2 separate regions of the Homo sapiens genome follow, and region 1 is reported to be linked to region 2. Evidence: microRNA targets listed by miRTarBase, many of them from high-throughput screens and not tested one by one. Region 2 holds a microRNA gene; the other region holds the end of a gene's coding sequence.
Evidence for each region. Region 2 holds the annotated microRNA hsa-miR-378i (ACUGGACUAGGAGUCAGAAGG, at 4,275-4,295, shown strand). A microRNA usually pairs through its seed, bases 2 to 8, with sites in the 3' UTR of a target mRNA and lowers its output. Matches are read on the target gene's strand: a 7mer-m8 pairs with bases 2 to 8, a 7mer-A1 pairs with bases 2 to 7 and ends in A, and an 8mer does both.

Region 1 (3,000 bases), not on the chromosome of region 2:
TGGAAACCCAGGCCCTCGTCCCTCGTGTCTCGCCAGGCTTCGTGAGCTTCGACAACCCGGCCAGCGCGCAGACCGCCATCCAGGCCATGAACGGCTTCCAGATCGGCATGAAGAGGCTCAAGGTGCAGCTGAAGCGGCCCAAAGACGCCAATCGCCCGTACTGAGCGCCGGCGGGAGCGTCCCCCGGGGGAGACCAGGACTCGCACAGGTAACCGGGGGCGGCCGGGGCGCGGGGACGGGGGTTGGGAGGGAACCAGACGGACCCGCCGCCTCCTCCGGCCTCCGTGGGCCGGACCCTCACTGGTGCCTTGGACCCGCTGCGCCCGGCTCAACCTGCTCCTCGCCCTGCTCCTCGGGCCAGGCGCAGAGCTGCCGTCACCCCGGCAGAAATGGGCCTGGCCATTTCCCTGTGGCAGGGCCACCAGGGGCAGGAGTGAGGGAGCCACTCCGGGCGGGTGAGGCGAGCCCTGGGCCTGCGCCTCCGGGTCTACATTGGCAGTCCTGTTGGCCAGAGAACCCTGGGGTGAACAGGTGGCAAGCTCAGGCTGAGGGAGGTTGGGGGCAGAACAGGCTCTACCCAGAAGAGCTGCAGCCGCCCGCGGGGCCTGCTCCCAGACCCCCGGCTCTCTCCTCCCCAGTTCTTCCAGGAGGGCTGGTAGCCTTTAGACACTTGACCCCTGCACCCCTGTCTTTCCCCATAGCTCAGTGAAGAGAGGAAGGACAGGATCTTTCAAAGGGAACTTTACTAAGAAACAAAGCAGGATGGGATGAAAGCTGAGGAGGGTGATGGTACAGCACTGAGATCCCGGGCCCTGCCTGCCCCACACGGGTCATGATGAGTGGTCGTTGTTACCTTTTCTGCTGGGCTGGGTCCTGCCTAGGAGCTGAAGACACAGTCAGCCACGCCTCTTCCAGCCCACGTGTTCCCCTGAGCAAAGTTCTTCCTGCAGAAAGAATGGGGGGAGATTCCCCAGGACATCAAAAGTCAACCTTCAGAATGGTTTCCCCCAGTGCTGTGGCTCTTGCAGCCTCGGCTTCTTCACAGAGCAGAGGTGAAGGCTCCTTTCGGGCCTTTCCAGCTCAGCACCCTGCTGCCCTCTGACCGCCCCTCCCTGCCCATGTTCCTCCATTTATTCAGCAGTATTGTGTGCCAGCTACTGTGTTAGGTACTTGGGGTTCAGCAGTGAGCAAGATTGAGAAGGTGGAGACAGACAATAAACAATGACGTGTGATCAAAGAATATGATCTAGTATGTCGAGATTGTTGGCTACAGTTAAACCACATGGTCAGTGTAGATCTCACTGAGGAAGTGAATTGGAGCATAGAAGGTGAGGGAAGCAGCCATGCCCCCGCCTCTGAGGGAACAGTCAGTATGGAGGCTGCAAGGTGGGGCTGCAGAGTGGAGTAGGAACAGCAAGAGACTGGGTTGCTGGGAGAGTGAGGAGGGCCACCTGGTGTGGGGCCTTGAAGGCCACTGCGTGGACTTTGGTCTCTTCTCTGAAATGGGAGATGGAGAGAGCATTGGAGAGTTCTGAATAGGAGAGTGATGGGTAACTTGCATTTCAGTGGGGTCACCCTGGCTTCTGTGTTGACAATAGCTTGTAGGGGGCCAAAGCATAGGTCTACTGCACTGACCACTCAGTCCAGTGTCACAGCAGTTGATGAGATGTGAAGGAATTAATTTCTAGGTGTATTTTGAAAGAGGAGCCAAGGATGAGTCCCAGGCTTTTGGCCCAAGTCACTGGAAGAACAGAGGGATTGGGAGAAAGATCAGGCATGTGAAAAATACACATTTGAGTTTCACAGTCCAGAGTTTGGGAGGGAGGTCTCCAGCTTCCCAGTCTCCCCTCAAATCTTCCACCCAGTGCTGGGGTACAGATACCAGCAGAACACCCTTCCTCCACCCAGAAGTAGCAACTCTCACCCTCAGAGAGCAGGGGCCTTCTCTCTGGGGGAGTGCTTGTGCCTCCACTCTCTGCAATCCTGGAAAAGCAAAACCAGTCTTTCCTGCCTCCTGGTTTCCCATCCTTGCCCATTTCTGGCTTGTTTCCCATCCTTGCCCATTTCTGGCTTGTGTCCAGATGCAAACACACATGTTATTCAGAGTTTGGGCACCTTCTTGTGCCAGGCACTGGGCCCAGTGTGGGGGATGCAAGGATGAATGAGTCACCATCCCTGCCCTCGAGGAGCTTCTGGCTCTGTGCACACACAGACACCAGGAGGCAGCTTGCAGATGGGGGCATTTCCATAGGAATGGAGGGACGGTTTCGTGAAAGCAGCTTTTTCTGTATATAGGACACTTTTTCTTAAATCAGCATAGCTCTGCCATTAAGGTGTGACCTGGGTTAGGGTGCTTGTCCTCTTTGGGCTTCTTTTTTCTCATTAATGAGACTAAGGTGTTAGAGTCAACTAGAGGATTTGGGGGTTAGGGGGATATGAATCAGGCAGGGTCATGTCCCGAGATTCCAAGGGGCACCCCTGAAAGTAGCTTGTCTTAGCCTCCTTGGCTCAAGCCAGGATAAAACCTCTAGGTTAGAAGAATTCCCAGATGAAGGAGTGAGAAGGCAGGTTTATTGTTTGGGATATAAGGTCAGAAGTGCCCACAGGGTTGAACCAGCTGGCATTCAGAGTTGGGGTGGGGGCTTGGGAGGAGTGGTTTAAAACACAGAGTCGGTTCTTCCACCAGGGCATGCAAAGGGCAGAAAGATTAGAACCCTAGACCTTCACACAGTGCTTACCATGCACCAGGCACTGCTCCGAGAAGTAACAACTAGGAGATGTTAACTACATAGCTACAACTACCTATAAGGTAGGTAGTGTTAGTATTTCCATTTCACAGATGGGGCACAGAGAGATTAAGTAGCTTGCCCATCAGCTAGTGAGTCACAGAGCCAAGCTTTGAAGCCAGGGAGCCTTCTCCCCTTCAAGTGAGGAGAATGAGAAGCCCCACCCTACCCTCACCCCAACCTATTACCCCAGAGTACCCTGAATGTCCTGAGG
Region 2 (8,268 bases):
ATTGCACCACTGCACAGAGCCAGACTCTTTTTCAAAAAAAAAAAAAAAAAAAGCAGGTGTCTGATATCCCCAACCAGCTCTGTCCAGGAAGGGCAGGAAGAGAGGAGGAGACAGGTGGGTTGGGGGAGATGGCAGGGGAGCACTCGGGGTCATGGAGAGGCTTTGGCTAGACGGAGCAGAGGAACCACTCAGGGTCTGTGTCCTGGCTGCGGGGTCCATCCCCCTCCCTACCCAAGAGGAGGCTCTGGTCTGCCCCCAGACACCTCCCAGCACCCAGCAGAGGGCCCACCCAGGCGGTGCTGGTTGAGGGGCTGAATTGGGGAACCACAGGTAGAAAGAGAGGCCAGGCCGGGTGCGGTGGCTCACGCCTGTAATCCTAGCACTTTGGGAGGCCGAGGCAGGTGGATCACGAGGTCAGGAGTTCAAAACCAGTCTGACCAAGATGGTGAAACCCCGTCTCTACTAAAAATACAAAAATTAGCCGGGCGTGGCAGTGGGCGCCTACAATCTCAGCTACTCGGGAGGCTGAGGCAGAGAATTGTTTGAACCCGGGAGGCAGAGCTTGCAGTGAGCCGAGATAGCGCCATTGCACTCCAGCCTGGGCGACAGAGCGAGACTCCGTCTCAAAAAAAAAAAAAGAAAAGAAAGGGGGGCCCCAGGCGAGCTCGGTCCCACCCAGCAGGCGGGGGCGGGGCAGGGCAGAGTGCTCCCCCCGCCCCCCGCTTCCTCCCCGAGGGCCCCGGAGCCCAGCTCAGCCTCAGTCCCCGCAGCTTGTGCGGCGGCGTCGGCACCATGAGGCGAGGGCCCCGGAGCCTGCGGGGCAGGGACGCGCCAGCCCCCACGCCCTGCGTCCCGGCCGAGTGCTTCGACCTGCTGGTCCGCCACTGCGTGGCCTGCGGGCTCCTGCGCACGCCGCGGCCGAAACCGGGTAAGGGGGACCCACGGGGCGCGCGGCGCCGGCAGCTGCGGGGAGAACGGGGCCCCGATCGCCAGGGCGCAGGCAGAGCCCCGACCCCCGGGGGCGCCGAGGGCTGAAAGGACCCTGTGGGCAGGGCCTGGAGGGGCCCGCGATCACCGCGTGGCCCTCACCGCCGCCTCTCTCCCTCCCCTTGTCCACCGCCCCCCGGCTGTCCCTCCCCTCCCCGGCCAGCCTCGCCCCCCTCCGCCCCTCCCCGTCCCCGCTCCTCCCTCCCCTCGGCCCCCTGGCCTCCCTCCCTGTCCCCTCCCGAAGCAGCCGGGGCCAGCAGCCCTGCGCCCAGGACGGCGCTGCAGCCGCAGGAGTCGGTGGGCGCGGGGGCCGGCGAGGCGGCGCTGCCCCTGCCCGGGCTGCTCTTTGGCGCCCCCGCGCTGCTGGGCCTGGCACTGGTCCTGGCGCTGGTCCTGGTGGGTCTGGTGAGCTGGAGGCGGCGACAGCGGCGGCTTCGCGGCGCGTCCTCCGCAGAGGCCCCCGACGGAGACAAGGACGGTGAGTTCCGTGTGTAGGGGAACCAGTCTGAGCGGGGCGCAGGGGCTGGGGTGTCGGGACGGTCTAGGGGGAGATGCATGGCCCCTGAGGGGGAGAGAAGGGCTTTAAGGGGAAACGGAGACAGAGTGGAAAAGAGTTTGCGCTGAGGAGCTCAGGCTGGGGAGGGAGACATAGTCCTGCCCCTGAGACCCTGGTCGGAGCCAGGAACAGCTCTGCCCTGACAGACCCCAGTGTGAGGAAGAGACAGGTTGCAGGAAGGGGGCCCCGTCTGAGGGAGGAGTCTGTCCTGCCCTTTGGGAGTCTAACGGAGCTTGGTTCCCCCATAAATCCCTGAAGAGTTTGCCAGACTGAGCCCCAGCTCCCCAACTCCCTGCCCTGCCAGCTCCCCACTGGCCAGGCCTCTGGACTCAGGGTCAGCCAGGTGCCACCCCTCCCCACCCTGCATTGGGCTTCATTTGACGGAGGACTGCCCCTCCAGAGGAGTCTTCTAGGGGAGGGAGGGAAGGCTGTGACTGAGTACGGAGCCTCTACCCCCTCTGCCTGCAGCCCCAGAGCCCCTGGACAAGGTCATCATTCTGTCTCCGGGAATCTCTGATGCCACAGCTCCTGCCTGGCCTCCTCCTGGGGAAGACCCAGGAACCACCCCACCTGGCCACAGTGTCCCTGTGCCAGCCACAGAGCTGGGCTCCACTGAACTGGTGACCACCAAGACGGCCGGCCCTGAGCAACAATAGCAGGGAGCCGGCAGGAGGTGGCCCCTGCCCTCCCTCTGGACCCCCAGCCAGGGGCTTGGAAATCAAATTCAGCTCTTCACTCCAGCATGCACATGCCCTCTTTCTGGGACCAGGCTAACTCTGCAGAAGCACAGACACTACAGACCACAGCATTCAGCCCCCATGGAGTTTGGTGTGCTTGCCTTTGGCTTCAGACCTCACCATCTTTGACAGCCCTTGAAGGTGGTAGCCCAGCTCCTGTTCCTGTGCCTTCAAAAGGCTGGGGCACTATGAGTAAAAGACCGCTTTTAAAATGGGGAAGGCACCATTAAGCCAAAATGAATCTGAAAAAAGACCAAGTGGGAGGATGCCTAATTTGTAGTTGGGTGGTTTTTTGTGTTTGTTTGATTTTTTTTTTTTTTTTTTTTTTTTTTTTTTGAGACGAGTCTTGCTCTGTCGCCAGGCTGGAGTACAGTGGCGCGATCTCGCCTCACTGTAACCTCCGACTCCTTGGTTCAAGTGATTCTCCTGCCTCAGCCTCCCGAATAGCTGGGATTACAGGCACGCACCACCACAGCCAGCTAATTTTTGTATTTTTAGTAGAGACGGGATTTCACCATGTTGGCCAGGATGGTCTCGATCTCCTGACCTCGTGATCCGCCCTGCTCGGCCTCCCAAAGTGCTGGGATTACAGGCATGAGCCACCATGCCCGGCCTTGTTTTGTGTTTTGGTTTTTTTTGAGACAGGGTCTTGCTGTATCACGCAGGCTGGAGTGCAACGATGGGTCCCCAGCTAATTGCAGCCTGGGCTCAAGCAATCTTTCTGCTTCAGCCTCCTGAGTAGGTGGGACTACAGGTGCTCCACCTTGCCCAGCTAATTTTTTTTTTTTTTTTTTTTTTGAGACAGAGTCTCGCTCTGTCGCCTAGGCTGGAGTGCAGTGACGCAATTTCGGCTCACTTCAAGCTCCGCCTCCTGGGTTCACACCATTCTCCTGCCTGAGCCTCCTGAGTAGCTGGGACTATAGGCGCCCGCCATCACGCCCGGCTAATTTTTTTTGTATTTTTAGTAGAGACGGGGTGTCACCGTATTAGCCAGGATGGTCTCGATCTCCTGACCTCGTGATCCGCCCGCCTCAGCCTCCCAAAGTGCTAGGATTACAGGCGTGAGCCACCGTGGCTGGCCTTTTTTTTTTTTTAAAGACAGGGTCTCGGTATGTTGCCCAGGCCAGTCTCAAACTCCTGGCCTCAGGCAGTCCTCCCCGAAGGGCTGGGATTATAGGCAGGAGGCGCCGGGCCTGGCCTCTATTTCTTTAATACCTGCCCTCAGAGCCGTCCTGCTTTTAAACTGATGCAAATGGCAGCAGTGAATAATCAATTCATGGGTTCGCTTGCTTTGGGATTTAGTACAAGATTATTTTAAGAAATAACAAAGGAGAAAAGATTGAGCTGGATTTTGCTGATTCTCAGGTATCTGTACCCCAGGGTCAACCCTGAGATTGGCCCAATCTGCCAGAACCTAAGATGCCATTTTGACCCCAGTGGCAGCTTCCAGAGCCACAAGCCTGCATTTGGGAGGAGGTGCGCAGCCTCCAGGGCTGGACTCCAAACTCGAGCTGAAGGAACATGCTGGCAGGTAGCTCTCTCAGGGTCCACCTGGGGTTCCAGCTGCTCCAAGACACAGCACATTTAGCCATAAACATGGAAGGGCTGGGACCTACAGGAGGCTCCTTTGTGTAGAGGCCAGGGCAGGCGTGTGACCTTGAACCAGGTGGACATGAGGTCCCTTGAACTCCCTTCTCTCTCTGGCTTGTTCCCCTGAAGCACTGGCCCCCCAGTGCTGGGCTTATTTGGCCATCCTGTGCCAGCCCCCTGGTCACCCACCGTCACAGTGGAAGCTGCTCCCTCCTCTTACAATGGTGTTCCTTGCTCTGGGGTCTGGGGACAAGACCATCTCTTTCCACTCCTGGACGACACTGTGCACTCAGTCAGCCGCCTCCTACCTGCCCTCCTGCACAGGGTCAGAACCTCCTGACCTGGACTTCGCCCTGGGCAGCTTCCTTGGAACTTGTTGCAGCTTAGCATCTTTGGAAGGGAGCACTGGACTAGGAGTCAGAAGGTGGAGTTCTGGGTGCTGTTTTCCCACTCTTGGGCCCTGGGCATGTTCTGTTCTGTGCATCAGATGTTTTCTGCCTGCCTCCCCCTGAGCTGCCACCAGAGCCACCTGTAGACCCCTGCTTCTCCTGCCCCTCCTGTCCCTTGCCAGGCCTCTGGACTCAGTGCTTCCTGTCCCAAGGACCTGTTGTGTGCCCAGCTTGGAAGACAGTGGCCACTCACATCCAGGTCTCTGCCTGGCTATTTGCTCCATGAACCCATCTCAGATGCCCCTGCCCCCAGGGAGCCAGGTGACAGGGTGAGGTCAAGTGACAAGCAGTAGGTGTGGGAGAGGTTTGGTGGGGTCAGGCCCACATGGGCCCAGCCATCCACTCCCCTTCCATCTGGAGTTGGGGGAGTCTGAGCTGCTCCTGGCCACCCCATCTGCCCCACCCCATCTTTTCCTGGCCACCCCAGCTCCCACCCCATCTTCTCCTGGCCACCCCATCTCCCACCCCATCTTCTCTTGACACCCCATCTCCCACCCCATCTTCTCCTGGCCACCCCATCTCCCACCCCATCTTCTCCTGGCCACCCCATCTTCTCCTGGCCACCCCATCTCCCCCACCCCATCTTCTCCTGGACACCCCCATCTCCCACCCCATCTTTTGCTACAGCCAGGGTTAGCTCAGCAGGTGAAAACCCCGAGGGTGGGTGAAACCCCTCTGGGGCTCAGACATGCAAACCTTGGGCATCTCTCTGTCCCAGCTGGCCCCGCCAGCCGGTAGGAAGTTTCCCCTGAGTTCTCAGTTTTTTCTTCTGAAAAATGAGGGGTTGTATGCAAGGTTCTCCTCCTGGCCTGTGGTCCCCAGAGAAGGGCAGGAAGGAACCTTAGATAATTCTCATATGCATTTAACAGACGAGGAAACTGAGACCCAGAGCCGTCACATCAATACCTCATTTGATCTTCATAAGAGCACCTGGAGGAGGGGGGTGGGGTGTTTGTGTTTGTTTAAATTTTTTTTTGTGAAAAAAATGAAGATAGGCATTTTGTAGACAATCTGGAAGTTCTGGACCGGAATCCATGATGTAGTCAGGGAAGAAATGACCCGTGTCCAGTAACCCCAGGCCTCGAGTGTGTGGTGTATTTTTCTACATAATTGTAATCATTCTATACATACAAATTCATGTCTTGACCATCATATTAATATTTGGTAAGTTTCTCTCTCTTTAGAGACTCCACAATAAAGTTTTCAACATGGTAAGGTTTTCCACCTGGGCATTTGGATACTTTGGTTTTTGCTGTTGTGGCCAAGACGGCACAGGCCACATGCGCCTGTGCAGGAGTCTCTGTTTCCCAGCACAGTTGTTGCGCCAAAGGCCTTGACTTTTTTTTTTTTTTTTTGAGATGGAGTTTCACTCTTGTTGCCCAGGCTGGAGTGCAATGGTGCAATCTCGGCTCACCGTAGGCTCCTCCTCCCAGGTTCAAGCGATTCTCCTGCCTCAGCCTCCCGAGTAGCTGGGATTACAGGCATGCACTACCACACTCAGCTAATTTTGTACTTTTAGTAGAGATGAGGTTTCTCCATGTTGGCCAGGCTGGTCTCAAACTCCCGACCTCAGGTGATCTGCCCGCCTTGGCCTCCCAAAGTGCTGGGATTACAGGCATGAGCCACCGCGCCCAGCCAGCCTTGACCTTTTTGTTTTGTTTTTTTTTTTGAGACGGAGTCTCGCTCTGTCGCCCAGGTTGGGGTGCAGTGGTGCAATCTCGGCTCACTGCAAACTCTGCCTCCCGGGTTCACGCCATTCTCCTGCCTCAGCCTCCTGAGTAGCTGGGACTACAGGCGCCCGCCACCACGCCTGGCTAATTTTTTTGTATTTTTAGTAGAGACAGGGTTTCACCATATTAGCCAGGATGGTCTCGATCTCCTGACCTCATGATCCGTCCACCTCGGCCTCCCAAAGTGCTGGGATTACAGGCGTGAGCCATCGTGCCCGGCCCAGCCTTGACCTTTTTAAAGGTCCCTGTTGGTCCAAATTTTCTCCTGAAAATCTAGACCATTTCACATCCATGAGGAGGGATTATATGGTCCAGTTTGCAGATAGGAAAAGAGAGGCCCTGTGAGGTAATGGGATCCGGCCCAAGATACAACAGGTGGGTGGTGGAGCTGGGCGAACCCTGGGCTCCTGCGCTTGGCGGCCATGCCTGCCCAGCAGAATGTCATTGGCCCGGACCCCCTCCTTGGGAGCGGAGAACTCGGGGACTGATGCCAGGCCCCACTCCCTGGTTTCATCACTACTCAGATTTTCTCCCCAACTGTTCTCTCATTTTGATAAGAGGGATCCCAGACAGACTCTGGAAGCGCCGTTTTGCGGGTGGGAACTGAAGGGAAAAGGCCTCTCTCTGAGCCTGTGTTTCGGGCCAGCTTTTCCTGAAGGAGGGTCTGATTCCCACCAGGTCCCCAGGGCCCTGGCCGGTGGGGGCAGGCCTGGCTGAAGTCTCGCTTCCTCCTGGGGCTTCCTGCAGGCCCCTTTCACTTCCTGCCTGGTAGCCAGAGGCTGGGGGCTCCAGGAGGGGTTGTGGAGGCCCAGCTGGTGAGGCCAGGGAGGAAGGCCTGACCCCCCACTTTCGTTTCAGCAGGGATGGCTCAACACAGCACTATCCCTGCAAGCTGGTAGCATCTCACTGGGCCTCAACTCTCTGGGCCCCTCTTCCCATCTGCAAAATGGGGCTCTTGAGGCCCACCTAGCTGTCCTTGGAGATTGAAGAGGTCCTGTGGCATGTAGGGACAGAGGGACCCCTGCTAGAGCCAGGGAACGCCCCCAGCAGGGAGGTGTGAGCAGGCCTGGTCCTGCCCTCATGACCCGAGGGTGGGGAGAGAATGGGGGTGCGGTAGAAACGACTGCCCCAAATAGCGGAATAGCGGGGCAGAGTCGGGGAGCAACCGGGAGGAGAGAGATGCCAGAGTTCCCCGCCCCTACGCTTTCCTCCCGGGACTCCGAAGGGCGCTCAGTGGTTGGCGTGGGGGACGGGGGGAGGGACGCTACTGGGGTCCCGGGACCCAGAGGAACCTTGGGCATCTCTCCACTCCCCTAGGCTGCGGATAATCTGGGATCCAGGCCCGAATCCAGCGACTTCGGGGCAAGCGAGTCTCTGCGCGGCTTCCGCCGTCAGCCCCGGCCACCACCGGCCCCGGGAGATTTGGACGTGGGGCGGGGGTAGGGGGTGCTGCCAAGGGGCGGGGTCAAGAAGAGAGGCGGGGCTGAGGGACCCCCAAGCCTCAAGGTGGCCGGAAAGGGGCGGGGCCAGCGGCATGCCTAAGGGGTGGAGTCAAGGCCAAGGGGCGAGGAAAAAGCTTGGGACCGGATAAGGGGCGGGACCAAGGCCAAGGGCGCCTGCTTCGGGCTCCCGACCTCTGCGCCCTCGGGAGTCCGGGTCCTCACGCGCATCCCGAGCCCTGGGGGCCTGGATGCGGCCCACGGCCCCGACTCAAGGGCGAGGCTCAGGGGGGAGGGCGCAAGACGCCTCCGCACAGAACTGTGACCGAGGAGCAGGGGGGCTGCCGGGGAGGGCGCACCTGTCCCCGTGCACGCGCTGTGGCCTCCGTGGAGCTCTGTCCTCTCTTGGTTCCCGCGCTAAGGTCTCGGTGTCCGCTCCGGATTCGCACGTACACTGAGGGCTTTGGAGCCTCCCAGTCCCGCCGCTCCCTGGCGACCTCAGGAGCCCGGGCGCCCCCTCCCTCCCACGGGCAGCTGGAGCCTGAGTCAGAGTTGCCTCGCGGGAGACAAAGACAGCCGTGGGCCCTCCCTCCAGAACCCCTCCTGGTATCGGCATTTGCACCAGCAGGGAGCCCAGAGTCCCCAAGAGCCTCTGCTTCTTGGGTAACTGCATCATTGAGGAAATGGAAGTGAAATTAGCTTAGGAATGAGGCCTTGGAGGCTTGTGGGTGGCATCCGCGGTCACGGTCTTCTCAGCCTGGCTTCAGTGTCTCTGGGGCC

Region 1: miRTarBase lists CELF4 as a target of hsa-miR-378i. The part of its 3' UTR that is shown has no 7-base or 8-base seed match.

What each region holds. Positions count from the first base shown.
Region 1 is chr18:37,250,975-37,253,974 of GRCh38, reverse strand. CELF4 (CUGBP Elav-like family member 4) reads left to right here. Exons shown (of 13, transcript NM_020180.4): 12 at 37-208. The coding sequence ends at 164. Among named protein-coding and RNA genes, the nearest start is that of SNORA111, 210 kb to the left of the region's middle.
Region 2 is chr22:41,919,298-41,927,565 of GRCh38, reverse strand. MIR378I (microRNA 378i) reads left to right here and starts at 4,269; the gene lies at 4,269-4,344. It overlaps TNFRSF13C (TNF receptor superfamily member 13C), which reads left to right and starts at 760. Exons shown (of 3, transcript NM_052945.4): 1 at 760-928; 2 at 1,235-1,465; 3 at 2,012-5,534. The coding sequence starts at 793. The coding sequence ends at 2,199. It also overlaps a transcript of CENPM not described here. RefSeq lists silencers at 700-1,439, 5,767-5,816, 7,497-7,966 and enhancers at 1,532-2,031, 2,032-2,533, 5,247-5,296, 6,827-6,896, 6,977-7,056 and 1 more.